Linked DNA regions of Homo sapiens. The protein of the gene in region 4 interacts with the protein of the main gene of each other region in a biochemical or structural test. Each region holds a gene or a part of one and is shown on either strand. Other genes may lie near its edges. The genes, in order: PKD1, CHRM5, CHRM2 and RGS7.

What was found.
Region 1: the proteins of RGS7 (region 4) and PKD1 form a complex in vitro, tested with the Homo sapiens proteins (one study listed by BioGRID).
Region 2: the proteins of RGS7 (region 4) and CHRM5 form a complex in vitro, tested with the Homo sapiens proteins (one study listed by BioGRID).
Region 3: the proteins of RGS7 (region 4) and CHRM2 form a complex in vitro, tested with the Homo sapiens proteins (one study listed by BioGRID).

Annotation. Positions count from the first base shown.
Region 1 is NC_000016.10:2,111,899-2,118,925, reverse strand, and holds part of PKD1 (polycystin-1 isoform 1 precursor), read left to right. Parts: intron 1-80; coding exon 81-250; intron 251-463; coding exon 464-1,135; intron 1,136-1,253; coding exon 1,254-1,437; intron 1,438-1,872; coding exon 1,873-2,093; intron 2,094-2,281; coding exon 2,282-2,397; intron 2,398-2,807; coding exon 2,808-2,934; intron 2,935-3,300; coding exon 3,301-3,548; intron 3,549-3,775; coding exon of another isoform or gene 3,776-3,891; intron 3,892-4,000; coding exon 4,001-4,756; intron 4,757-5,633; coding exon 5,634-5,765; exon of another isoform or gene 5,766-5,769; intron 5,770-5,860; coding exon of another isoform or gene 5,861-5,885; intron 5,886-5,962; coding exon 5,963-6,138; intron 6,139-6,452; coding exon 6,453-6,586; intron 6,587-7,027. UniProt on the Homo sapiens protein: Component of a heteromeric calcium-permeable ion channel formed by PKD1 and PKD2 that is activated by interaction between PKD1 and a Wnt family member, such as WNT3A and WNT9B. Both PKD1 and PKD2 are required for channel activity.
Region 2 is NC_000015.10:33,971,489-33,978,515, forward strand, and holds part of CHRM5 (muscarinic acetylcholine receptor M5), read left to right. Parts: intron 1-7,027. UniProt on the Homo sapiens protein: The muscarinic acetylcholine receptor mediates various cellular responses, including inhibition of adenylate cyclase, breakdown of phosphoinositides and modulation of potassium channels through the action of G proteins.
Region 3 is NC_000007.14:136,871,643-136,878,669, reverse strand, and holds part of CHRM2 (muscarinic acetylcholine receptor M2), read right to left. Parts: intron 1-7,027. UniProt on the Homo sapiens protein: The muscarinic acetylcholine receptor mediates various cellular responses, including inhibition of adenylate cyclase, breakdown of phosphoinositides and modulation of potassium channels through the action of G proteins.
Region 4 is NC_000001.11:240,808,183-240,815,209, reverse strand, and holds part of RGS7 (regulator of G-protein signaling 7), read left to right. Parts: intron 1-432; coding exon 433-494; intron 495-1,481; coding exon 1,482-1,592; intron 1,593-3,166; coding exon 3,167-3,292; intron 3,293-7,027. UniProt on the Homo sapiens protein: GTPase activator component of the RGS7-GNB5 complex that regulates G protein-coupled receptor signaling cascades.

The DNA.
Region 1 (7,027 bases), on a different chromosome or scaffold from region 4:
CAGGGCCTGGTTGCCAGTGGGGGGCTGGCATAGACCCTTCCCACCAGACCTGGTCCCCAACACCTGCCCCTGCCCTGCAGAAACCTGAGTGGGAACCCGTTTGAGTGTGACTGTGGCCTGGCGTGGCTGCCGCGATGGGCGGAGGAGCAGCAGGTGCGGGTGGTGCAGCCCGAGGCAGCCACGTGTGCTGGGCCTGGCTCCCTGGCTGGCCAGCCTCTGCTTGGCATCCCCTTGCTGGACAGTGGCTGTGGTGAGTGCCGGTGGGTGGGGCCAGCTCTGTCCTTCCCAGCCAGGTGGGACCTGGGCCCTGCAGACACTGGGCAGGGCTCAGGAAGGCCTCTCTGGGGGGGGCCTCCGGGCCAAGGGAACAGCATGGGAGCCTGTGAGTGCGGCGGGCGGATGTGGGGGCGTGGGGTGGAGCCAGGAGGAGCAGAACCCGGGGTCCAGTGGCTGCCTCTTCTAGGTGAGGAGTATGTCGCCTGCCTCCCTGACAACAGCTCAGGCACCGTGGCAGCAGTGTCCTTTTCAGCTGCCCACGAAGGCCTGCTTCAGCCAGAGGCCTGCAGCGCCTTCTGCTTCTCCACCGGCCAGGGCCTCGCAGCCCTCTCGGAGCAGGGCTGGTGCCTGTGTGGGGCGGCCCAGCCCTCCAGTGCCTCCTTTGCCTGCCTGTCCCTCTGCTCCGGCCCCCCGCCACCTCCTGCCCCCACCTGTAGGGGCCCCACCCTCCTCCAGCACGTCTTCCCTGCCTCCCCAGGGGCCACCCTGGTGGGGCCCCACGGACCTCTGGCCTCTGGCCAGCTAGCAGCCTTCCACATCGCTGCCCCGCTCCCTGTCACTGCCACACGCTGGGACTTCGGAGACGGCTCCGCCGAGGTGGATGCCGCTGGGCCGGCTGCCTCGCATCGCTATGTGCTGCCTGGGCGCTATCACGTGACGGCCGTGCTGGCCCTGGGGGCCGGCTCAGCCCTGCTGGGGACAGACGTGCAGGTGGAAGCGGCACCTGCCGCCCTGGAGCTCGTGTGCCCGTCCTCGGTGCAGAGTGACGAGAGCCTCGACCTCAGCATCCAGAACCGCGGTGGTTCAGGCCTGGAGGCCGCCTACAGCATCGTGGCCCTGGGCGAGGAGCCGGCCCGAGGTGAGTGTCTGCTGCCCACTCCCCTTCCTCCCCAGGGCCATCCAGATGGGGCAGAGCCTGGTACCCCCGTCTTGGGCCCACACTGACCGTTGACACCCTCGTTCCCACCGGTCTCCAGCGGTGCACCCGCTCTGCCCCTCGGACACGGAGATCTTCCCTGGCAACGGGCACTGCTACCGCCTGGTGGTGGAGAAGGCGGCCTGGCTGCAGGCGCAGGAGCAGTGTCAGGCCTGGGCCGGGGCCGCCCTGGCAATGGTGGACAGTCCCGCCGTGCAGCGCTTCCTGGTCTCCCGGGTCACCAGGTGCCTGCCCCCACCCCCCGAGGGGCCATAGGTTGGGAGATCTCTGAAGCACTGGGGCAGAGCCTGCGGCTGGGGAGTCTCAGGAGGAAGGAGGTGGGAGCTGGGCCGGCCCTGGTGAGCAGGTGGCGCCGGCCGGTGGGGCCGTTCCTGTCAGCTCTGCAGATGCAGAGGTGGACATGAGCTGGGGGCAGCCTCCGGACACTCCTGGGCACGCCATACGGGAGGTGGCCTGCACGGGGATCCCTGCCGGTACCCACAGGCCCCGTGGGTGGGTGCTGCTGTGAGCCTGGGCTGGTGGGCCCTGGTCTCCGGGCTCTGAGCCTCAGTTTCCCCATCTGGAAAGGGGGACAGTGATGGGGCTCCCAGCGGGCTGCTGTGAGGGTGGGAGGATGGAGGAGTGCCCTGAGCCCCCTGCCATCCCACACCCGCCCCCAGGAGCCTAGACGTGTGGATCGGCTTCTCGACTGTGCAGGGGGTGGAGGTGGGCCCAGCGCCGCAGGGCGAGGCCTTCAGCCTGGAGAGCTGCCAGAACTGGCTGCCCGGGGAGCCACACCCAGCCACAGCCGAGCACTGCGTCCGGCTCGGGCCCACCGGGTGGTGTAACACCGACCTGTGCTCAGCGCCGCACAGCTACGTCTGCGAGCTGCAGCCCGGAGGTGTGCGGGGGGCCAGGCAGGGGCCTGAGACGCTGGCTGTGGTTAGGGGCCTGCCGAGCGCCCGCGGTGGAGCCTGGGCTGAGGAGGAGGGGCTGGTGGGGGGGTTTTCGGGCGGCTCGGTCCCCAGTCTGTTCGTCCTGGTGTCCTGGGCCCTGGCCCGGCGCCTCACTGTGCACTCGCCACCCCAGGCCCAGTGCAGGATGCCGAGAACCTCCTCGTGGGAGCGCCCAGTGGGGACCTGCAGGGACCCCTGACGCCTCTGGCACAGCAGGACGGCCTCTCAGCCCCGCACGAGCCCGTGGAGGTAGTCGGCCCCCCACGTTCTACAACCTGCCCTCCTGCCTGCCCCTGGAGGCCTTGCCTGCCCTGCCCACTGTGGGTCTCGCCAAAAAACTTGGGGGCCTTAATGTTGCTTGTGCCCAGTGAAGATGGTTGGGAAAATCCAGAGTGCAGAGAGGAAAGCGTTTACTCACATTACCTCCAGGCCTTTTCTCTGAGCGTGTGTGAGTTATTCCTGAAAGGCAGGTCAGGGGTCCTGCCCCCCATGGACAGTTTCCACCGGAGTCTTCCTCTCGAGCGACAGGAGCCAGGCCTGTGGGGGTCTGATGGCTCGCTCTCCTTCCCTCCCCTCTTCCTGGGAAGTTCGGGTAGGGGGAGTCTGGGCTTCAGGCTGGGATGGGGTCTGTGGAGCTGAGGCGGCCCCCTGCCCACCAGGTCATGGTATTCCCGGGCCTGCGTCTGAGCCGTGAAGCCTTCCTCACCACGGCCGAATTTGGGACCCAGGAGCTCCGGCGGCCCGCCCAGCTGCGGCTGCAGGTGTACCGGCTCCTCAGCACAGCAGGTGGGACTCTGGGTGGTGGGTGGTGGGTGGTGGGCGCCGCAGGACTCGGGGTGGCCTCTCTGAGCTTTCACGTCTGCTGGTCCTGTGGCCACCAGAGTGGTTCCCAGTCTTAGGTGGACAGAGCAGGGGTTCCAGAGACACCAGCTCATTCCAGGTGTCCTGGGGGTGGATTGGGTGGGGCCTGCCTGGGGGCCGGCCTGGGTCAGTCGGCTGGCCGGAGACGGACGCAGCACTGGGCTGGGAGTGCTGCCCAGGTGGGGAGACCTGTCCTCACAGCAAGGCCAGGATTGCTGGTGCAGGCAGTTGGGCATCTCTGACGGTGGCCTGTGGGCAAATCAGGGCCCCAACACCCTCCCCTCCTCACAGGGACCCCGGAGAACGGCAGCGAGCCTGAGAGCAGGTCCCCGGACAACAGGACCCAGCTGGCCCCCGCGTGCATGCCAGGGGGACGCTGGTGCCCTGGAGCCAACATCTGCTTGCCGCTGGACGCCTCCTGCCACCCCCAGGCCTGCGCCAATGGCTGCACGTCAGGGCCAGGGCTACCCGGGGCCCCCTATGCGCTATGGAGAGAGTTCCTCTTCTCCGTTCCCGCGGGGCCCCCCGCGCAGTACTCGGTGTGTGGCCCTGACCTGGGTCTGTTCCCTGCATCTCCTCAGGCCACCTTCCTGTCTGCTGCCCAGGGTCTGGGTCTGTGCACCAGACACACCCAGCCTGCAGGCCCCTCCCACGTCCTTGCCACCTCTGACCTCCGACCTCTGCAGTGCCCTCGGCCCTCTCCCAGTGGGAGAAGCTCTCGCCTGGGCCCTTGGCACGAGCTGTGCCTCCTCTTCCTCTCTCCCAGCACAGCTGCTCCTTCCTGTCTGCCAGGTCTTGGCCTGTGTCCTCTCCCCGTGTGTCCCCCGGTCTGCAACTGTCCTGCCTGTCCTTGTCACGAGCACTGTGGGGAGGCTCCTTGAGGTGTGGCTGACGAAGCGGGGAGCCCTGCGTGTCCACCCTCATCCGTCGTGCGGGGGTCCACGGGCCATGACCGTGAGGACGTGATGCAGCCCTGCCTCCCTCTCCACAGGTCACCCTCCACGGCCAGGATGTCCTCATGCTCCCTGGTGACCTCGTTGGCTTGCAGCACGACGCTGGCCCTGGCGCCCTCCTGCACTGCTCGCCGGCTCCCGGCCACCCTGGTCCCCGGGCCCCGTACCTCTCCGCCAACGCCTCGTCATGGCTGCCCCACTTGCCAGCCCAGCTGGAGGGCACTTGGGCCTGCCCTGCCTGTGCCCTGCGGCTGCTTGCAGCCACGGAACAGCTCACCGTGCTGCTGGGCTTGAGGCCCAACCCTGGACTGCGGCTGCCTGGGCGCTATGAGGTCCGGGCAGAGGTGGGCAATGGCGTGTCCAGGCACAACCTCTCCTGCAGCTTTGACGTGGTCTCCCCAGTGGCTGGGCTGCGGGTCATCTACCCTGCCCCCCGCGACGGCCGCCTCTACGTGCCCACCAACGGCTCAGCCTTGGTGCTCCAGGTGGACTCTGGTGCCAACGCCACGGCCACGGCTCGCTGGCCTGGGGGCAGTGTCAGCGCCCGCTTTGAGAATGTCTGCCCTGCCCTGGTGGCCACCTTCGTGCCCGGCTGCCCCTGGGAGACCAACGATACCCTGTTCTCAGTGGTAGCACTGCCGTGGCTCAGTGAGGGGGAGCACGTGGTGGACGTGGTGGTGGAAAACAGCGCCAGCCGGGCCAACCTCAGCCTGCGGGTGACGGCGGAGGAGCCCATCTGTGGCCTCCGCGCCACGCCCAGCCCCGAGGCCCGTGTACTGCAGGGAGTCCTAGTGGTGAGTATGGCCGAGGCTCCACCACCAGCCCCCAGGCAGGTGCCTGCAGACAGGGTGCTCACACAGGGCGTGAGGCCTGGCTTCCCAGTGAGGGCAGCAGCCCAGTTACTGGGGACGTCGGCCCCGGGCAGGTCCTGCTGGCTGGCTCCTCGGGCTACCTGGTGGGCTTTAAATTCCTGGAAAGTCACGGCTCTGACAGTGGCTCCGCTAACTCATTCCACTGTCTCATTTCACAAAATGAATTTAAAACTCTGCTCCCTGACCTCACACGAGCCCCCGTGAGTCTCTCACGCCCTCTGCTGTGTTCTCGCCTGGCTAAAGCGAGTGGCTTTTGAGGTGGAGTCTGAACCCCTGATGGGAAACTGCGGGCTGCCCGCGGTGCCACCATGCTGGGTACATGGGGGACAGGGCTGTCTCCATCTTGCGGGTACCTGCCTCTTCACCAGGGGCCTTGGGAGGGGCCATCAGAAATGGCGTGACCTGTGCAGCCTGTCCTGGGTTCTGTAAGCCAGTGTAGGTGCCTCCCCTCACTGCTCCGAGCTCTCTGGGTGAGGAGCTGGGGCAAGAGCGCCGGGAGGGTCTGAGAAGACTCAGAGAGAGGTGGACTCTTTGTAGCTGGTACTAGGTTTGCTTTACAGATGGGGAAACTGAGGCACAGAGAGGTTGAGGCATTAGTAGTACTACATGGCTGGCTGGAGAGCCGGACAGTGAGTGTCCCAGCCCGGGCTTGGCTCCCATGGCATGCAGAGCCCCGGGCACCTCCTCTCCTCTGTGCCCCGCGTGGGACTCTCCAGCCCGACGGGAGGTGTGTCCAGGAGGCGACAGGCTAAGGGCAGAGTCCTCCACAGAGCCCAGGCTGACACCATTCCCCCCGCAGAGGTACAGCCCCGTGGTGGAGGCCGGCTCGGACATGGTCTTCCGGTGGACCATCAACGACAAGCAGTCCCTGACCTTCCAGAACGTGGTCTTCAATGTCATTTATCAGAGCGCGGCGGTCTTCAAGCTCTCAGTAGGTGGGCGGGGGTGGGGAGGGGAGGGGATGGGGCGGGGCAGGGCGGGGGCGGGCTCCACCTTCACCTCTGCCTTCTGCTCTGCTTCATGCTGCCCGAGGACGCTGCCATGGCTGTGGGTGAGTGGAGGGAGGGACGCCAATCAGGGCCAGGCCTCTCACCTGCCACCTGGGCTCACTGACGCCTGTCCCTGCAGCTGACGGCCTCCAACCACGTGAGCAACGTCACCGTGAACTACAACGTAACCGTGGAGCGGATGAACAGGATGCAGGGTCTGCAGGTCTCCACAGTGCCGGCCGTGCTGTCCCCCAATGCCACGCTAGCACTGACGGCGGGCGTGCTGGTGGACTCGGCCGTGGAGGTGGCCTTCCTGTGAGTGACTCGGGGGCCGGTTTGGGGTGGGCACCAGGCTCTTGTCCCAGCCCCAGCCTCAGCCGAGGGACCCCCACATCACGGGGTTGCTTTTCTGAGCCTCGGTTTCCCTGTCTGTTGGGAGGTAACTGGGTGCACAGGAGCCCTGAGGCTGCACGGGAGCCGGGAGAGGCCTCAGCACAGCCGGGTGGGCCCTGAATGGAGGCCCGGGGCGTGACTGCAGAGTGGAGCCTCGGCTGGGTCCCAAGCACCCCCTGCCCCGCCACCGCCCACCCCTGTCCCGGTTCACTCACTGCGTCCCACCGCCCCGGCAGGTGGACCTTTGGGGATGGGGAGCAGGCCCTCCACCAGTTCCAGCCTCCGTACAACGAGTCCTTCCCGGTTCCAGACCCCTCGGTGGCCCAGGTGCTGGTGGAGCACAATGTCATGCACACCTACGCTGCCCCAGGTGAGGGATGAGGGGGTGAGGGGGCCACTGCCTTTCAGGCTCTGAGCACGGGGTCCCCCCAGCTCCCCAGTCAAGCTGCCCCCCTTCCTCCCCAACAGCCCTCACTGTGACCTCACCTGGGCTGATGGCTTAGGCCCCTACTGGGGTGAGGGAGGGGCCAGGCGTGGGGGGAGTGGACAGGGAAGCTGGGCCCCTGAACTGCGCCCCCCGCCCTCCCCGGGCCTGGCTCTTGCTGCTCTGCTGCCCCGAGTGCAGCTGCACTTGGAGGCGGTGCCGTCCTCGCCAGGCAGCCCTCAGTGCTGCTACACCTGTGCTCCGTCCCGCACGTGGCTTGGGAGCCTGGGACCCTTAAGGCTGGGCCGCAGGTGCAGCCGTTCACCCCGGGCTCCTCAGGCGGGGGGCTTCTGCCGAGCGGGTGGGGAGCAGGTGGGGGTGCCGCGG
Region 2 (7,027 bases), on a different chromosome or scaffold from region 4:
AAATGAACACATCCATTTCGTGTATGTTGACATAACAATCTTAAAAAGTAATTTTTGTCTGAAATACCAAGCAACATAATTTTGTATATAAAATTAGAAACATACCTAAAATTCATTTTTCTGTGTTAGCATTCAACTTAAAGGGACATTGCATAATATTTTTAAATGCATTAAATATATATTTACTTATATCTTCATTATTATAACTTTAAGTTTTCATAAGGAATTTTTTTCATTCCATTATAATGGCACCGTGTTTCAAGCTTAATTCAACTGGGCATTTCAACTAGCCAATATATTTGTTCCTTATTATGGTTAATTTTCCTTATGAAGTGACCAAATTTGAATAAGGATGTAGTTCACCATGAAGATCATCTCCTCTCCAGCTTCTTCCTGCTGAGAGAGAACAATCTTTGGTTTGTGACATCACAATCTGTGACTGGGAAGTGGCTCTGATATCAAACAGATGATTATATGCTTTCAGTGTGAACTAGCTAAAAGAGAGATGTAAGCACTATTATTTCAAGTCATATCACCAAGACACTAAAGAGATGCATGACAGGAACTGAATTAGAGAAAGATGCTTTTATTGCATTTGTCACTTTTTCAGCATCAACTATTAAAGATAAAAGTACCATCTCACAGTTTTCTCATTAATAATTCAAAAGCGGGAGTAAACATCATGTTGGTTAAATTCACAGACCATGATAAAACGGGAGTAAGGAAAATACCAGTAAGCAAGCAGACAGTCATGAAAGAGGCCCCTAGAGAACTGAGAAATAGATGCAAAATTTCACCTTGGTTCAAGCAGAAATACTGATGCTACTCAGAAAATTGAAAAATTACCAAAACACCCAAAATGAGAAAGACGGTGTCTCTGAATGAGAAAGAGATCCCTAAATATAGATTATAAAGTGATCCCATGACATAGATTAATTAGTATCTGACACATGGACTAGTATGAGGGCAGGGAGGGGGCTGGTTAACACCTTTCTAAAACAGCATGGATTTGTTAAAAAACAAAAACAACAACAGAAAACAAAAACAAAAACAAAAACAAAAAAACAAAGGACTGTCTTGAATTAGCAAAACTTCTGTGTTCTCTGAAAGTCTTCAACAAATATTTGTAAAAAATAAATAAAAATAAATCAGGAGTTAGGGTTCAATTAAGGAAACAAAAATGAAAGCTCCTTTTACAAACACATAGGCATATACAGACCTCTTTTTGTAATCTTTGTTTGCAACAGTAGCCAAAAGACAAAGCAGACCAACTAATCCTTCCACACTGAACACATGTGCAGTCTGTCCTTTGATTAGTGGCAATACCCTGATTCAGAGTATCAGTCATTTGTGACTGACCCTCCTAGACTCAGAGCCTATACAAAGATGATGTGTAAAAAATACAGTTAACTACTCCACGCATAATTACAAGTCAAGCTGAAGTCTCATTATCTACAGTTACACAGATTGCTTGATCCAGTGGTGTGTAGAGAATTCTTAAAGCATTTATTCAGTCCTATGTACTGGTTCATTACAACCAATGGGTTATTCAGCAGTTGTTTAAAGATCTGACATTCTCCATTTTTTGTATTGAAATTATTAGTGAAATAACTCAAGAATCTGGACCAATCAGAAAACATTACCACTTTTATAGACATTGTTTGACGTCACACTGTTGTCATCATCAGACTACGTGGGCCTTCTTATTTCCTGATTATCACTATAGAAATGTAGCACTGAATAATGTGTTCTTTAAGAAGCAAAAGCCAGAGATGATTTCCAGTTCAGTTATCAACTAAAAATCCTTAGCTATTTATAGAATTTTTTGGTACAGTAACCTAGAAAGCTGTTGGTGTAAATCTATCAGGCTCAGTATATAACATAGTACAACTCTTAATATTTCATCAACTGTATACCTTCCCTTCATTTGTGTTGCAAAGACAGTCCTCTACATGCAGTAACTTCTGGGTAACTTCTGGTAATACCTACAGAAGAGCTTCTCATGCCTAGGAACTTCCCCAACACTTTGAGGATACTTCTTTCATAACACCTTGTTAGATTCCATTGAAAACCTATTTATGGCCAAGCGCAACCTGTAATCCCAGCACTCTGGGAGGCCAAAGCTGGAGGATCGCTTGAGGCCAGGAGTTCGAGACCCACCTAGGCAACACAGCAAGACTCCATCTCTATAAAAAAATCTAAAAGTTAAAAAAATAAGAAAATCTATTTATATAGTTGTCTGACATACGAAATTGCATTTTTCATGGTTGAGGGCCTTAAGAGTAAAGACCACATCTAATTTATCTGTCTATTCCCAAGGTAAGCTCAGGACTAGTTAATCAGCAGATGTGTTAAATGAATGTGAAAATGTATCTTAATGCATTCTCAGGTACAATCTCAGACAGCCAGAAGAATAGTGATCCTAAAATATACCTCAGCTGCATTTCACTGATAATAGGCAAGTAGGTAACTGCAGAAAAGTCTAATGAAGGAGTCTTTTAAAGTAGTTTATACTGAAATAATAGCTATAAGGAGATAATATCTGTTAGGGATAGTATATGATATTATGAGGTATGCAAATACAGGATAGCAAATTTATCCCTTATGCTTTTGCTCTATTTGACATATGGAAATCACGTTTGCTATACTACTAGATCTAGAATTTCATCGATAATCCAAAAGGATCTAAATTGGTCTTGCTATTAAAAAGTGACTTCAGGGGAATTTGAATAAGTACTTTGCAAATGAAATTGAAGAGATACTACAGTCATCTTTCTATTCAAAGATGAGTGGAGAAAGTGACACACTTAAAATCTTACATTTATTCTGTTGGATGCTCTACCTGCCCCCTCTCCCTCTTTCACTCTCTGTGAGGAATGAATCTTTGCAAGTTACCTATGTTATATCTCCCCAAGTCATCTCTTCTCCTTATGCCAACATACAATATACCAACAATGGTGATTTCTTTAAAAGCAGGGACAAAGGCTAAAAGACTATGCTGTGCCTCAACCCCTATGATAGAAATTAAAGTAGCAGAGTGTTGAAGTAGGCCAGCATCACTCTAGAATTCATCAACATGTGTGTTGGGGTGGGGGCAGCTATAGTCTGAAGATGCTCAGGGTACATGAATAATGCATGTGTACGTCCTCACAGAAATCTGTGATTTGATGTTGGCGTGCACAACTTAAGATTTTGAGCTTTGGGCCGGGCACAGTGGCTCACGCCTGTAATCCCAGCACTTTGGGAGGCCGAGGCAGGTGGATCACCTGAGGTCAGGGGTTTGAGACCAGCCTGGCCAACATGTTGAAACCCCGTTTCTAATAAAAATACAAAAATTAGCCGGGTGTGGTGGTGCATGCCTGTAATCCCCGCTACTTGGAGGCTGGGGCCGGAGAATCGCTTGAACCCAGGAGGTGGAGCTTGCAGTGAGCCAAGATTGCACCATTACGCTCCAGCCTGAGCAACAAGGGCGAAACTCTATCCTGAAGGAAAAAAAGAACAACAGATTTTGAGTTTTGACATCCTATCATGTTTTTAGCCATGTTCCTTCTTTCAAACACCATCTTAGATAAAATATCAAGATATAAGACATATAAGAGCAGATCTGCCCTGGTTGGGTTGAGACAGAAAGCTTAGAGCCCGCAGGTCCCCTTCTCACCCCATCTCTTCTACACTCTCTCCTCCACACGCTTCTTGGACACCTTCTAAGATATGTTTGTTGTAATTGTTCTGCCATCTAGAGGATTCACAAAGATATTCTTCTCCATTTTAATGCAAGTTTTTGATTCCATATAGACACTGCCAAATACTCTAACCTAAAACTCCTGGTATATGTCAAGCAATAGTATTTTCTAGAGCAAGAGGGCACAGGTTGCGAAACAGTGCTACTTAGCTATGCGGAATGCTACTCAATTATTCTGCTGCCTAAACATTGATCAAGCAACTAAGACCTAGGATTCAAATAAATTATAAGTTGATTTTAAAAAGGACTAAACATCTATAATTTGGGTTGGAATATTCCAGAAGTAACTAAAATTAACAAAATCTCAAAAAATTATTTGCAATCAAGAAAGCATAGAAACAAAAAGTGAGAATTTGTCATAATAGAACTCAGAATTCAGTGTGAGAAAACAACAGAATTTGTTAGAAATACCAGGTCCCAGCTGGGCACGGTGGCTCACGCCTGTAATCCCAGCACTTTGGGAGGCCGAGGCAGGTGAATCATGAGGTCAGGAGTTCAAGACCAGCCTGACCAACATGGTGAAATCCCATCTCTACTGAGAATACAAAAATTAGCCGGGCGTGGTGGCACATGCCTGTAGTCCCAGCTACTCGGGAGGCTGAGGCAGAAGAATCCCTTGAACCCGGGCAGCGGAGGTTACAGTGAGCCTAGATTGTGCCACTGCACTCCAGCCTGGGTGACAGAGTGACTATGTCTCAAAAGAAGAAAAGAAAAGAAAGAAATACCAGGTCCCTTGCATAATATTCTAGTATTATTTCACCTAACAACATTATACCAAACACTGGAGTTGTCCTGAGTTGTTTCCAGGTTTGTGAACTCTGCAATTTACTTGCTTTTGCAAGTGAGATGGGGCTCAAGTATTTAAGCTTGAACCTCCATATATAACTAAATATTACAACCAGCAGGATATATTGGATAAAATCAACTTTTAAAAGAGGAAATATGATCTTCCATCTAAAAAAGCCATGTTTCAATTATTATGACATACTATTTATATTACAATGTATTCATTTGCATTCAGTGATCATCTCCAGCACTGTCCTGTTCACTAAGGAATTCTCATAACTATTCATCCAAAATCTCAAATGATTCCTGCTTTGAAGTCAATCTCCTAAGTGAGTAATGTCGCTTTTTTCTCTAAAATACTTTAAAATATTTTCAAATATATTCTTGAGATTCAATTTTAAGTAGAGTTATTTTAAACCAACAACCAATACCCATGGACTTATTACACAGCTTTAATATAAATTTCTGCCATGCCCGCATCAGATTTTTTATGGCCTCTCCATAAATGGATCTGGGAAGAAAAACTCCAGTAGACAACACACTTTTATTCTGTAAGTGTATTAGGAACTGGTTAAAATTTATATATCTTTATTTAGGCTTTTTAAGTATCAGGAATAGGACCTTCTGCAGGCATAATGGTATATCTCCATTTAAAATATTTTAAATAAATGTAAACAGCAAGACAGAAACAAAAAAAAAATTTAACATAAATGTATTGTACCTCTCCTGTCTCAGATGACCAGCTGAAATTTTTAACATAAATTTATTGTACCTTTCCTGTCTCAGATCCCCAGCTGAACTTTTGAAACAAACATCCTAGGCATAGAAACATAAGCTACTTTATTTTTCTATGCCTTTTCTTCCCATCCCTGAGTCAGCCAGCCTCCTGTGGTATAGTGACATCCTGGATGGAAGTAAAATAATCAAAATTACAGGGTCCCTTGGGAAGGAAACCAATTCCCAGCAGTGATTCCTTATATAGAAAAGAGATAGCTAAACTCATGGTCACAATGGCATGAATTAGTTATGGCAAGGTTAATATCTTGTATAGAAAAAAATAATTTTTGGCTTAAATTGGTACCAAGGAGATAGGAAGGTTGAAAGGCTGTCTCCTCACTAACAAAATCCGCACTACCTTTTTTAGCAACAAAATGAACAAAAAACACAAAATATACATTTAAAGGGAACACAAAAAGCTGGAGTTCTTACATGAGACAGGGAAGCTTGCCTTTAGGATAACAAGAACAAGCTCCAATACTCTTACTCTAAGACACTTTTTCTCATATATTGGTAGGATAGAAAGATCATCTGATTAGCACTTCAACAAAGCAGAAGATGAGACAGATTCAAAACAAATCCTCCCCTTATCATCTCCTCCTATACTCCCTTACTTTTATTTACAAGTACATAAAATACTGCATATTATAATGAATTCCGGTTTCAAACCTTGACATTCTCTTTTGTTAGGAGGCTATGACAGCGTGCTTTGATTCAGGGTGTTGTATCCCAGCCTCGTGGCCTCACTGAGCACCATTCTTATGCTTGCTCTCCTCCAAGGACACTTTGGAAGAAAGGATGGTACATACATATTTTCCTTCTCATTACAGCCCTATGTCTATGTCTGTGAAATTTTGAACCTTGAAATTCTGACTATTTCTACAAGTGAAGAATCAAACGTTCTCTATTACACTCTAAGTTTCCAATAATATGGTCTCAGAGCAAGTAAGTCCTCCCTGGCAAAACAGCCAGGTTTGAATTAGAAAGGACTATTTCAGGCCAGGTGTGGTAGTTCACCCGTGTAATTCTAACACTTTGGAGGCCAAGGCAGGAGGATTGCTTGAGCCCAGGAGGTCAAAGCCGCAGCAAGCTGTGAACACGCCACTGCACTCCAGCCTGGGTGACAGAACGAGCCCTGTCAAAACAGAGAAAAAAGAAAAGAAAAGAAAGAGAAAGAGAAAAGGAAAAAGAAAGGAAGAAAAGGAAGAGAGGAAGGGAGGGAGGGAGGGAGGGATGGAAGGATGGAGGAGGAAGCGAGAGAGGTAGGGAGGGAGGGAGGACCATTTCAAAAGTCACTATGTCTATATAAAACTATTTTAAAAACATAGAAATTCAACCAGAAAACCTTAGCGATCCAAGTACATGAAGAAAGAGGAAATTTCTCTCTAGGCAGAACCAATGCAGACTGGCCGTTCTGAACAAAGTGACACGTATTACTAATATTTCCTGAGCATCCTCTGAACATGTGTGGTACTAGACTACAGCAAACCCACTGTAGACACAGGAAGTCTCTTGAGTGAGAAAAACAGAGTGGGGGAGTACATTTAATAATTGGAAATAAAACATCAAATGAAAATTAAAGCGTACAGGCCGGGCACGATGGCTCACGCCTGTAATCCCAGCACTTTAGGAGCCCGAGGTGGGAGGATCACCTGAGGTCAGGAGTTCAAAACCAGCCTGATCAACATGGTGAAACCCTGTCTCTACTAAAAATACAAAAAT
Region 3 (7,027 bases), on a different chromosome or scaffold from region 4:
ACATGTAAAGAAATGGCATAGGTTCTAAAATTTGGTAAACACTCAAAAAACAGCAGCTGTCATTTCGTGGTTTTTGTTGCCATTATTATTGTCACAGAAGAGTATCTCACCCCAAATTCTGAAATTTCCCCTGATAAGGATATAACTAGCCATGGAAAATATCCAGTCAGGCTTATTTTAAAATAAAGCAAAACTGAGATTGCTTGTTTACTGTTGAATGATACCCAGTTGCCAGAGAGAATAGAAATTAAACCTATATCATCTACCCTTCCTCCTGCCTTCAGTACCTCCATCCAGCATAGCACAAAGAAAAATAAAGTCTTTATTATTTAGGCTTACATGCGAAGACATAACTGCCTACTCCACTGATAAAATCTCATAGAAAAGTAATTTTGAGGATAAAGCAAGAAAACAGTGGGCATATCTGGGAAACATGCTTTGGCCCTGGGGCTGCTCTTTATCTTCTCCCTAAAATGAAACCAAATGCCCTGATGCTCTCCAAAGAACACAATTAAGTAGAATTTTCTTATCACTTTCTATTTTCATGCTGGTTATGGTAGAAGCTCTTCCCTTTGTAACAGTGCCAAGGAAGGCAGAGTATTAGAAAATCTTCATCGTGTTCAACAATGTAAAACAGGTTGTGAAATGTATTTTTTTCCTCTACCAATCAAATTATTCTGTGCTTATCTTTTATAGAAAGGAAGAAAAATTAGGCTTCAGGTAATTATTTAGCTCACGATCACATTCCTCCTAAAGAGTTCCTTGGTAGTTAATTAAATAAGAAATAAGAAGCTTGTTTTCCAACATGATTCTGTCTTGTTTATTGGCTTGGCATGAATGAGGAGGTGAAGAACAGCTTATTTGCTTTATTCAAACAGAAGAATCATCAGCATGACTAAGGGTGAACAATAACATCAAGAAAAGTCATTATAACTTTCTTATTCCTAGAGGAGGTATCATACCCGCCTGTTACTTGGGATCATCAGAATGCAACAACATTTTGCAACAATGACAGTGAAATGTATCAGCATTAACATTTAAGACAATTCTCTCACTTTCTCTAACTCCTCCACTAGAGTTGGGAGAGAAGAAGAGGAAGAAGTCCAGGTGCTTGATCCAGCTACATTAGTAATAAGAATCTACACAGAACACCAGATAGAAGAATGCAGAGAGGAGCTCTGGAATCATGAAGATATATATGATCTGTGAAGATATTAAACGAATGAAAGGAATTTAAGAAGGAAAAAAATAAGAAATAGAAAAGAAATCAAGTACTTATTTCTTAAGTAGCCGAGACTGATTTAACTCCAAGGACATATTGTATGCAAATGGGACTGTGTCCCATCTAAACACACAGGTATCTAGGTTTCCTCTACATTGAAAGATGTGCTTCTTAATCTATAGCTGTCTTCCTGAACCGTTATTCATTGTTCACACTAGAATTTGCCTAACAAATCAAAAAGTCTCCGGCTACAGCAAAGCTCTCTGTCCGGGCCCTAATGGAAAATACATATAGTACTATTGGCAGCAACATTTTGAGTTGTACATCCTATCTTCTTTCCTCCTTGATGCCTTCTATGTTCCAGTTCATCAATCTGTTATTTAAAATGTAGTCCTGTGATTTCCCACCTCAGTATCATGGAAGGGGCTGGTTAAAAATCTAGATTCCTGTCCCTAATTCCCAGCCTGACTCAATGTCTTTACAAGAGGAATAAAGTGTCTCAGATACTCAACCTGTGAATTAATCTCTTTTAAATGACTTCTTAGAAGATAGTAGTTATTTAAGTAATTCAGAATCTTATCATTTAAAGCACTATACCTGGTGACATGAATATTGACTTTTGAAAAAGTGGGCCCAGTTCTGCCAAGAGGTCAATATTCAAGGATATTTAGGATTCTCAGCCTCAGAAAAGAGAGGTCCTGTTTTTCTGAGCCCAATAAATACAGATAGCTTCAAAAGACTGCCTCGTTACTACAGTTTTTGTTATGTATTTTGCACTAATCTTAAAAATGTAGATCCTCAGTTTTATTGTTGCTGTTACTCATTGTCCATGTGCTGGAAATTTGAACTTAAAATAGCCCTCAGCCTATGAAGTTGCCTACAGTTTCTTTGATACGATAAAATGGAGGGGTACTGTGGGTATCTATGCGGTTGCACACTATGCAATAAAATAATAGTAAAATTATTTTGAAAATAGAAAGTGGTTTTAAAAATTCCACTTAATTGTGTTATTTGGAAACATCAGGGCATTTGGTTTCGTTTTAAAGAGAAGACAGAAATACAAATGTAAGTGTATATTGCCATCATTTATAAAATATGGCCTCTATTCTCACGTCATCTGTATCCCTAACAAGTTCTAGCTGTTACTCTACTACCAGCACCAGATAAAACCATCCAAGTTGCCTAGCATTTTTATAAGTTAACTCCTTTGTAAATAATTTGTTTTTTAAAATAAAAACACCCATGGCTTCGCCTTCCAAAACATGTTGCTATGAATAATAAGGGCTAAAAATGTCATTATTATTATATTGATTAGGTATATAAAAATAACAGGAATATACTGAGCACCTAGTGGGCACCAGGTGGTGCACATGGCTGTGAGAGATTAAATGAGATAGAGGATGCCAAATATTCATTAACTTCATCATATTATATCATACCTTTTCATGAGTATTATTATTAGTTTGAGGAATGGCTAGAGTATAAGTGTGAAGCTTATCATTGCCTGTTAGTATTATAATAATAATAAATTCCACGAAGAGGAGGAAGAGGAGGAGGAGAATAAAGGGGAAATAAATATATTGGCTAGTATTTATTTAGCATGTACACTGTACCAGTCATTACACTAAGCTATGTGCATGGATTCTTTCCTTGTGCAGTTGGAGGATGAAGAAATGCCTGTGAGAAAGATGGCTGGCAAAACAGCTCTATGAGCTATGGAAGCTCTCACATGGGTTTGATCTCAGGGTTTATCCTAGACTGTTGAGAAACACTGAAGAATTTTAAACAGGAGAACGACATGTTCAGATTTGCATTTTAGAAAGGTCACTCTGGCAATGTGAGGAGTAGCTTGTACTAGAGAAAGACTGGAGAGTGGGAGACCGGTTAGAAGCATATGGCTCTGGTGATAGTTCATGTGAGAGGTGCGAAAGGTCTGAAAAGATGCCCGGATGGAAAGAGGGGGATGGATTCCAGGGAAGCCTCTGAGGGAACAGATTTAACCTGGGGTCTGATCAGAGGGCAGCAGTGGAATTTGGAATGAGAAAGAAAGAAGATATGTTTATAGCATATCAACCTCACTTCTAGTTTGCCATGTATTTAGGGATTAATAAAAATGTGCAGCTTGATATTATTATTCACACAATCATGTAAGTAAGAGTAAAACGTCTACGTTTCTCACCTAACAAATACCTCCACTCTTTCTTTCTCACGCGTGTGTGTATGTGTGTATGTATATGTATATATGTATATATATTTTTTTCTTGCTGGAGATATATATATATATATAAAATTCATGTGTGTGTATGTGTGTGTATATATATGTATATATGTGTGTATATATGTATATATGTGTATATATGTATATATGTGTATATATATACACACATACACACACATGCATTTTTTACATATATATATATATATTCAGCAAGAAAAATGTTTCCATTCTAAAGATAGAAGACTTCCATTTAGAAGTCTTAAAGACTTAAATGTGCAGAATATTCTATCAGACTATCCTCCCAGGGATATCTCGGTGGCATCTCTTTTTCTTCCATAAGAACATTTTCATAACAATGTTAAACCTGTAAGGGTATAAATATCCTTCCCACCCCTTTGCCATAACTGTATACATAGTAAACAACATTTGACATGCCCAGACAACAAATGTATTCTACTAATCTCTTTGCTTAAAAACATATTAATTCAAAGTCCTTCTTGCTTAGGTCCAGTTGAATTTTTGTTTGAAATTGAAATTCTCCCTAAGCTTTAAAACGGATGTCCTTGTCCTATCCAATCCAATGTGCTTCCAGTTATTGAACACCAGAGGGCATCATTCAGTGAAAGCTTGGATTTGGGAGGGAAGAGGGGAGAGAGGGGGGGCAGAGAGAGAGGGAGGGCATGGGGGAAGACAGAGAAAAAAAAGAGAGACAGAAGGAATTCCATTACTAATGAAAGAAAATGAGAAAACTGAGTTTTTAGTGTGTACCCTTATCTACCATGAAACATTACCATGGTAACAGCACCAGTTAAGATGATTGTATATTTAGGTCATAGTATAAAAGAAGGAGCTAGAACATGTGAAGAAAAAAAAAGAGAAATAAATAAAGTAAGACAAAGATATATAAAGAGTGGAAAGAGGCAAACCAACTGGAACCTACCTCATTCTTTGCTAATAGCAGTTTACAAAGTAACATTATACTTTTCAAAGCACATGTGGATAATAAATACTAATTAAAAGTAAATGGGGCCATTGAAATTCAGAATCTTAAGTGCCAACAATCTTATAGAAAAAGAGAACTCATTTAGCATGAAAAAATGGAGAGACAACTAGACTGGGATTGGGATGTGTGTGTTCTTATGCAGTTCTTGGTTAGCTGTGTCACCTTGAAAAAGTCTCTTGATCTGCTTCCTATCATGAACTCAGCTGAATGATATCAAAATTATCTTTTATTACTATGCATCAGACAAAAGAACTTCTGTTTAATAATGTCTTAGTATTGCTGAGAGGTGAAAATGGCATCTGCCAAAATTTTGGTGCCCTCGTTTACCTCTGCCAGAGGCAATCACTGACTAAACAAGACAAGCACGTGCCAACTAAGAGCCTACTCAGCACTGCCTCTTCTTTGCTTAAGGTTTGGAGGATCTAACAAAAACATGCAAAGTTGTATTAACAGATGGGGAGAACATCATTGAACTTCTGAATGCCATGGTTTTGTTTTCCCCAAACACAGGGAAAACAAGTGCCACAACTATTTATAGCGAACCGATTGACACACTATAAGAACTAAGACAGTGGAGTCCAACAAGCTTGTGTTTGAATCCAGGGGCTGCAACTTACTAGCTGTATGATCTCGGGTCATTACCAGACCCCTCTGAATGCTGATTTCTTCCTGTAGAAAATAACATCTACTACATAGGATTGTTGCAAAGATAAAATGAGAAAATTGATTGCTGTATTAACTCATTCAAAAGAGATTTAATATGTTTCTTAGGTATGCCTGGCTGTATTTTAAGCAGTGAGGCTAAAGCAACTGACAAAACAGAAAATATCATATGGGAAGATGCTTAGAATAATGCCAAGGACTTAGAATACACACAGCAAAAATACCTGCCTAAGGAAAGGTGACTTGCATCTCTTTCCCCACATACCACCTCCACCACATAGGCCAGGTGAGCTGTGGGATATGCAATCAGTATACTTATGCCATTTATCTTAAATGAGAGAAGTCCTGATGCCTGCTCAATGAACCAAAGGTGGACAGAGTGGGTACAGGAAGCAAAAGCCAGTTGTTAGTAGTCACAAGGTGGACATTGGTGGCTTTCGATACATAGGAGTCTCTTGGGAACTATGCCACGGAGAGTCCATGTCATAAAATCTCAAGCAAGTCAAATATAAGTTTAAATAAAGAAAACCAATTCTTCAAGAGAACTGTGTGGCAAAATGTTTCTGTCAGTCTCTGTCCTATTGAGTAAAGTGGGAAAAGTTTAAGACAGGATTGAGAATGGTGTCTGGGTGATCTTGTGAAGATAATAGAAAGGGTTCGCTCACATGCATATTCTAAACAAAGGCTGACATCAGTGATGGAGGTTGAATCCAGCACGATTATTGATATACCTACAGATTCTTGTCCTCATTTTTCTCTCTCCCATTCCGTCTTCATTTCCCTTTTGTTCTAATTTCTTCTCTTCTCCCTCTTTTGTACTTGTTTTAACTTTACTCATTGTTGTGGGTCAGAGAGACATAGGACTCCTAATTAGCCAGCCTAACTTCCATTGAAGACAGTGTCATTCATGCTTTTTGTGCCTTCCCTACCTGCCAGCAGTCTGGGACTGTTTTCTTTGGATCTCTGAAACCACCCATTCCTATTGGCCCTGGGGAATGGCTGCTCTGGAATTGGAATTGGAAAATTGTCCAGTAAAGACACATCTGGATGCTTGACTATCTGGACTTTCTGGGCAATGAAGGCGATAGGGTCAAATTTAGAGCAATATGTGTTTTTGTTTGTTTGTTTTTTAACATGAAGACAACAGTCTCAGCCTCCCAAAATTGAAGGACCATGGGAACTCACTCCAAAGGGACTTTTACCAGTATTTCACCTGCTAGTTCTTTCCACATCTGACTCTGAAGTTAGTTGAGAGCTGAAAACATGCTCTTTGGGTTCCCTTTTACTGGAACTATGACAGTATTCAAATCCACCTATTTGCTCACTCCAATTTGCCTCCAGGCACCCTCAAGCACCCTTCTACAAACAAACATGCCTCTTTATTTTATAGGAAAATGAAGCATCTTTCAGACAGTCTAGCCCTGGGAATTTGGAGTCCCAAAACTTTCCCCCATTCCCACCCCACCTCATTCACAGAGCTTTATTTTAAAATGGTAAACAGATTTGGCTGGAGTTCTCACCTCTTTTTAGGGTCAGGTTAAATTTTTTAAGTTTTAATTGGCATTATTGTCTAGCCCAGGAAAGCAAATAGAGTCAATAGGAAGTTGCTTATCCATTGTATTGCTGCAACTGGAACACATTTTGATAATAGTAGTAACAATAATAATTCACCTGGCATTAATTTGTTACTTCTGAGTCCTCAGCTGCCAAGCCTGCAAAGCTGGGACATTGTTGGCACAAAATTCTTCCATTCGTTTGACAAGTCTCAAAAGTCCACTTTCTGAACTGCAGCCGAATACAGTTCCCAGCTTAAAATTGTCTCTTGGCCAAGTCAATTGTTCTTACTCCTGTGATCATCAGTGCCTTTATTATTAGCTCCCCAACAATGGCACAGGTATGCCTGTTTGTGGCTTCTGTTTAA
Region 4 (7,027 bases):
ACCACTACACCTGGCTACTTTTTGTATATATTTTTTTACAGACAGGGTCTCACTATGTTGGCCAGGCTGGTCTCGAATTCCTGGGCTCAAGTGATCCACCCACCTTGACCTCCCAAAGTGCTAGGATTACAGGCATGAGCCACTGCACCCAGCAAAATCTCTACAATTTTAAAATAAAATCACATTTTGTTAAAGTAGGCAGAATGGTCAAACTCATTGCTCTTCTAAAGTGATATCAATTGTGTTCAAATTCCAACATTTCATTTTGTTAACTCTTTAAGAGCCCTCTGCTTCTATTTTTTTAACCAACTTTGAAATTGTACTGACGTAGACTATACTCTTGTTCAGAATTGCCCAGCTGATCATGATTTAGAGTGGAAAATTGTGAAAATGTCATTACTTATGTAACTCCTTCTCTAACCCTCTTTTCAGATAAAATATTGGCAAATACAGTTAGATAGACATCGGTTAAAAATGTCAAAAGTCGCTGACAGGTGAGTATTTCAAAGTGTCTGTATAAATTTTAAAATTTCATATGACAATTACATGTGTTTAAAAATGAAAGAGAACTGTGGGGACAGGAGTTGGGACAGATAATTGGAATCCTGTAAGTAATGTGATTTTGTTTTCCTTTTTGCACATAGAAAAACTTTCAAAGAACTCTTTTGATGTAGTTTAAATGACAGAATGATTATAATTGTCTTAAATGTCTAGACATCCAGTCCTTGTTCCACTAAGAATCAGATATAGAGGATAATTCTGCAGAGTCTAGCCTTTTCACTCCTGCTGGAAGACATGAAACTTTCCATTTATTGATGACCTTTGGGCAAACTGGAGCCTCTCTATAAACTTATTTTAACAATGACAATTGACACTGTTCCTGCCTGACTTCAGAATATGAATGAAACTCAAATTTCAGATATTTTCCTTTGCTTCATTTAAATCTGTTCTTAATGCCATTCATATTCTTCACTTTTGGGCATTGCCAAATCCTACCTCCCCAACTTCTTTCCCTTCTCCCTTTTTAAAATTTTTATATACATTTAAAAAACTTGTCAGTGGCTCCCATTTTACTTAATTCCTGTAAATACTTTTGACAAAATTTCCCTTTTAAGCCCTTCTCTCAGTTGTATAAAATCTGTTCTGCTGTGGGTGGACTGATTAACCAAAGATTGGAACTGACTCTTAGCGGTGCCCTTCACACACTGACCTCTTCCATAGTGCTTCATGTTAACCAAGGGATACTGATTTACATGGCTTAGGCATGGGTAGAGATGGAATCTTTAGCCACAGTTGTCTGCCAAGAAGCACAATAAGTTGTTGCATGAAAGTTACTGAAGCGTGAAGATTGCCATTGGATTTCATGCTTTAAGTGAACAAGGATTCCTTGGTCCCACATTTTTATATTGTTTTCCCTGCTTTGGACTGGCTGCAACCCCAGTCAGAAAACTAAAGAAACTGGAAATGTTTTTTCTCCTTAGTCTACTAAGTTACACGGAACAGTATTTAGAATACGACCCGTTTCTTTTGCCACCTGACCCTTCTAACCCATGGCTGTCCGATGACACCACTTTCTGGGAACTTGAGGCAAGGTAGGTGGCATTTTATCTTTCTCGCCCATATGTTGCTTTATTTCAGGGTCTGAGTGAAATGGGAAGGATTTTATTGTTGGCTAATTGTGAATGTAATTTTGTTCTTTATCTACATTGGCCTATATCTAACATTCTTGTTCGAGATCATGGCTTTTGAAACTTAGACATTTGCATTTGCATTAAGATTTGCATTTGCATTAAGATTTGCATTGCTGGAAAGACCGTCCCAAAATTAGAGGTGCAATTAGTCAGAGTTAGGATCTTCAGCTCTTGAAATTTAGCTCATTGCTATTATCTTCCTGGAAAATTCACGTAGCCACAAAGTCTCATGTAGTCAAGTAAAGTGAATGCTAAAGCCATACATACTTAAGCCCAACACAAGTATGTCTTTATAAATTCAATTTTAAGACAGAATGAGCTTACCATAGACACTGTAAGAGAAACTGGCAAGACACTTCCTAAGAAAAGCAAAGCACCACTTAGGACTCCATAGTTTCTTTCATGAGCTATCTAGGGAAAGAACTACATCATCAGTCTTAACAGACTCATAAGAGGATCATGGCGTATCACTTTACAAAGAAAAGATGGGTGCTCTGTCACACTTCTAGCAGTTCTCTAGATTGCATTTCTGGTCTCTCTCACTTTTGCATCCAGCCATGAATCTTAAACACTGGACATGCCCAGAACTCTTCCTCCACAAGCTAAAGATTTTATAGATGAGAAAGCTGGAACCCCAAAATGTTGTGACTCAGTTGGGATTAGGTCACAGATTTAATTGACACCAGAATCATTAGCTAGTATTGAGATCTTTTGGTTACCAATGCATTTTCCCCAGTTCAATATACCTGCATGACCCTGTGTGGCGTAGTGGTTAAGAAATGTGTGCCTGGCATGGTGGCGCACACCTGTAATCCCAACACTTTGGGACGCTTTGGTGGGTGGATCACCTGAGGTCAGGAGTTCGAGACCAGCCTGACCAAAGTGGTGAAACCCCATCTCTACTAAAAATACAAAAAGTAGCCGGGCATAGTGGCAGGTGCCTGTAATACCAGCTACCCGGGAGGCTGAAGCAGGAGACTCTCTTGAACCCGGGAGGTGGAGGTTGCAGTGAGCCGAGATCACGCCATTGCACTCCAACCTGGGTGACAAGAGCAAAACTCCATCTCAAAAAAAAAAAAAAGAAAAAAGAAATGTGGCACTGGGGTCAGAATATCTGGATCTTTACCCCTTATTACTTGCCTGACATTGGCAAGTGATAATACTGTGCCTCACTGTCCTCATCTGGAAAATAATAAGATTAATAGTGGCTATCTCATAAAGTGGTTGGCAAAAACAAAAAGAGACCATTTATGTAAAGTGCCTGGCACATAATGCTCAATAAATGTTAGACTTTATTATTAATACTAATGTACACGATGATTTCATGCAGAGCCGTTAATCGGATATATATATTTTTAAAGAAAAGGTAAAGATGGGAACTTCGAGGCACACATGATTTTGAAGGGGAATGTAATAACAAAAAAATGGGAATTCTAATGAAAGGAATGTATTTGCCTTTGTTTTATCTTCTATAGCAAAGAACCGAGCCAGCAGAGGGTAAAACGATGGGGTTTTGGCATGGACGAGGCATTGAAAGACCCAGTTGGGAGAGAACAGTTCCTTAAATTTCTAGAGTCAGAATTCAGCTCGGAAAATTTAAGGTAAAACACATTGCTTGGATCTTATAAGCCAGAGAAATACTGTCTGTGATGTGTCTGGTTATTTTGGAGGTAATAGATCAATTATTCTTCCACTAACATCATAATGATGTCATGAACCCATTGAATTTCTGCCACCTAATGAAGGGAAAAGAGATAGCAAGGCAAAGGCTGTCCAACGTATCAATTTCTTATAACTTATTTTTACGCCGTCTCTGTATCTCCAGATGTTTTAACTATACAAATTTGGTGGCTTTGAAATGGACTCTGTAAAGAAATGCAGTACAGAGAACAATGTTTGGCAAAGTGGAGATTGGCCAATAACATTTATGAAGTTCAATTAAAATATCACCTATTTGTCATTGTTGACTATCTTTGCGTATCACTTCTCAAGCAAGTTAGAGAAGAAGAGACTGGGCAGCTATATCAAATAACTTGAAACCAAACTATTGGGCTGTCTCATTCTCTTTGCATGTTTAAATAATAGCCACAGGGCAATTGAGAGCAGCACAGCATTGAGCTGTTCGTGAGAGAGTGACACCCATTCTGCCCATCTGTTGTAAACATCATCTTTATATATTTTTAAAACTTGCTAACATAAGGAGGATCTGAAAATTGCATTTTTAAATATAAGACATTAGAGTGGATTTTAATAGCTCTATTTAACATCATTGAAGGGAGTGATAACTTTCCACTATATAAGACTGTTGTTTCATGAGTTCTTTCATTCATTATTCTTTTGAAAGCTGATGCCCAATTTTTACTTTTCCATGACTTATGCAGTCCTGTAAAATTCATTTACTGAAAGTTCTCTGCATTCATTTATTTTCATTGGAACGAAGTAGTGCCAGGCATGGTCACGTTCTTTTCAGGAGATTTAACAGGTAGGAATCCCAAACCATTCAGAAAGATGTAGGACGCTGACACATGTCGCATGGATGAAGCAAAATGACCACAGACAGAACCCGGAGGAATGTAACTCTCTGTGTGTGCCTGGCATGGATTGCTGGCATGCAGCTTCCTATTCTCCTTCCAGTTTATGGGAACCCTTCATGCTTGGGCTTTTGCAAGATCTTGCTGCTAAAGTTGCTAAAGTTCTGTATTGAGACTACTAATAACATTTTCTATATTAGGTCACATTGTCAATAATTGAGTGCAAGAATTCATTAAAAGGCTAGGTGCGAGGGCTCACGCCTATAATCCCAGCACTTTGGGAGCCGAGGCAGGTGGCTCTCTTGAGGCCAGGAATTTGAGAGCAGCCTGGCCAACATGGCAAACTCCATCTCTACAAAAAATTAAAATTAAAATTAACCGGGCATGGTGGCACATGCCTGTAGTGCCAGCTACTGGGGAGGCTGAGGAATGAGAATCGCTTAAACCCAGGAGGTGGAGGTTGCAGTGAGCTGAGATTGCACCACTGCACTCCAGCCTGGGCAACAGAGCAAGACTCTGTCTCAAAAAAAAAAAAAAAAAAAGAATGCATTAAAAATAAAGCAGAGATAAAGGATCCTTGAGGCATTTTAGTGGCTAGGGAGATGGACATTCCTCTCATTCTCTAAGTTTTTGAAAACATGCTGATATCATTTGTATCATCATGAGTAAATAAATAAGTAATAAGCCTTACCAGCCTCACCTAGCCAAATAAAAACATCGCCTTCTCTCATTAAAATTACAGTCTATTGGTAGATACAGACAAGAAAACAAATCACAGCACAAAATCATGGGTGTTTAGTTGGGAGAAGCAGAGAGGGATGCCTAGCCCAGAGTTAGAGATCAGCGAAGGGATACTAGGGGAAATCGCTTCTAGGCTAAGAGCTGGACAATGGGGAGGAGATAAACCATCAAAACAGGAAGAGAGAAGATGCCTTTGGAAAAAGAGGATAGCATGTGCATACTAGGTTTCAGGCATGAATTGAATTCCTGCCAATTTCTTAGTTCAAGCTTTAATCATTTCATATCTTAATCATTCTATGCCGTACTAGACTCTAGGCTAAGTGATTATATCTAAGAAATATTAGATTATCTTATATATATACACACACATTATATACATACACACATATACATATATTTCTTGAGTATCTACTATATTGCCTATCATATGTTTCCTTAGTAAGTATAGATCAGTAGATAAATGAAAGATGTAGATTAATTCTTGAATACCTACAAGACACCAGAATATATTTTATATCTACTACTTTTATAAGTATGCTGTTATATTTTGCATTCATTATTTCTGATCATCACACATCCAACCACCAAAACAACATAAAATGTAAATATTGCCTCATTTTATAGATGAGAAAAGCGTGGCTGAGGAAGGTTAAGCCGAGAAAGTGTGGCTAAGGAGGTCAGATTGCATGTAAGTGGCATTCTTGGTTTCCTACAAACCAGTACCAAGCTACTGTCCACTGCTCCCCAAATCTGAGCCCTACTCTGCTTCCACTGACATATCTGTGTCACACACTGAAGGAGACAAAATGGTCCAGTGGTCAACAGGGCTGTGAATTGCACTTAAAATAAAATAACTCTCCGTGCATCTTACCTAAACAGCTGCCCTCCTGCTATCAGTGAGTGTGTCACTCGTCTGAGCATTTTTTTTCAAATATTAGGACAGGAAAAAAATAAGAAGCACTGTTTCTCGATAACTACTTATGCTTCAAATATACCCTCTGCTCTCCCTAATAGAGAGCAGAAACTTGAAATTTTATGATGTATTTCCCTCATTCTTTTTTTTGAGCAAAACACATAGCATAGAGCAAGTGCTAAGAAAACATAGTAATATCATGAGTTTTTATCTTTGAGTGACTAAAAATATGCCAAGTACTTTTCAGTGCCTTCTATATAATTTATATCATTAGTATACATTAACGGAATTAATTTAATCAACTAATCCAATGGAAACCAATTAATCCAGTGGAAACCCAGTGAAATAGGCGTTATCATCCCATTTTACTGATGAGGAAATCAAGAATCAAAGACATTAAAAATACTTACTTAGCTTCCACCTATATAAAGGATATAGGATTTTTTTTTTTTTTTAAGAGAGATGGGATCTTTCTCTGACACCCAGGCTGCAGTTCAGAGACACTGTCATAGCTCATAGCAGCCTTGAAATCCTGGGCTCAACTGATCCTCCCACCTCAGCCTCCTGAGTAGCTAGGACCACAGGTGCAAGCCATTGCACCTGGCTCCTCCATGCTATTAAGCTATTACAATAATTACAGTAATGGTGAGAATAAGAAAGGCAATGATGCTGTTAGAAAGACCGTGTGAGGGAGTGGTTGTGAGCATGTCATCTGCTGCAGATCTTCTGGGAGCAAACCTCAGCTGTGACAGTAATAGTGAGCAACCTTAAATAAGCAACTTAATCTTCATATGCTTAGTTTCCTCTTCTCTAAAATGAGGGAAATAATAGAACTTGCCTAATAGAATTACTGTGGGAATTAAATGAGTTAATATAGGTGAATCACTTAGAGCAGTGCCTGCACTTACATAACAGTGTAGGTGTGGTTATTAACTTCTCAACCCCTTTATATTTTATGCTTATTTCCAGGCCCATTTCAGATGTCACTGGATTTAGAATAGCTTTGTCTAGATCCCCCTTTTCCAATCCAGCACTTGCCCCAGCAGAGGGGCTCTTTCCTGCTTGCCTTTCCCAGACCGTCTAGTTCGTTCTCTTCCTAGAGAGCCATTCATGTACTTCCTGGTGTTACGGCCAATTAAATGGTTTATCTT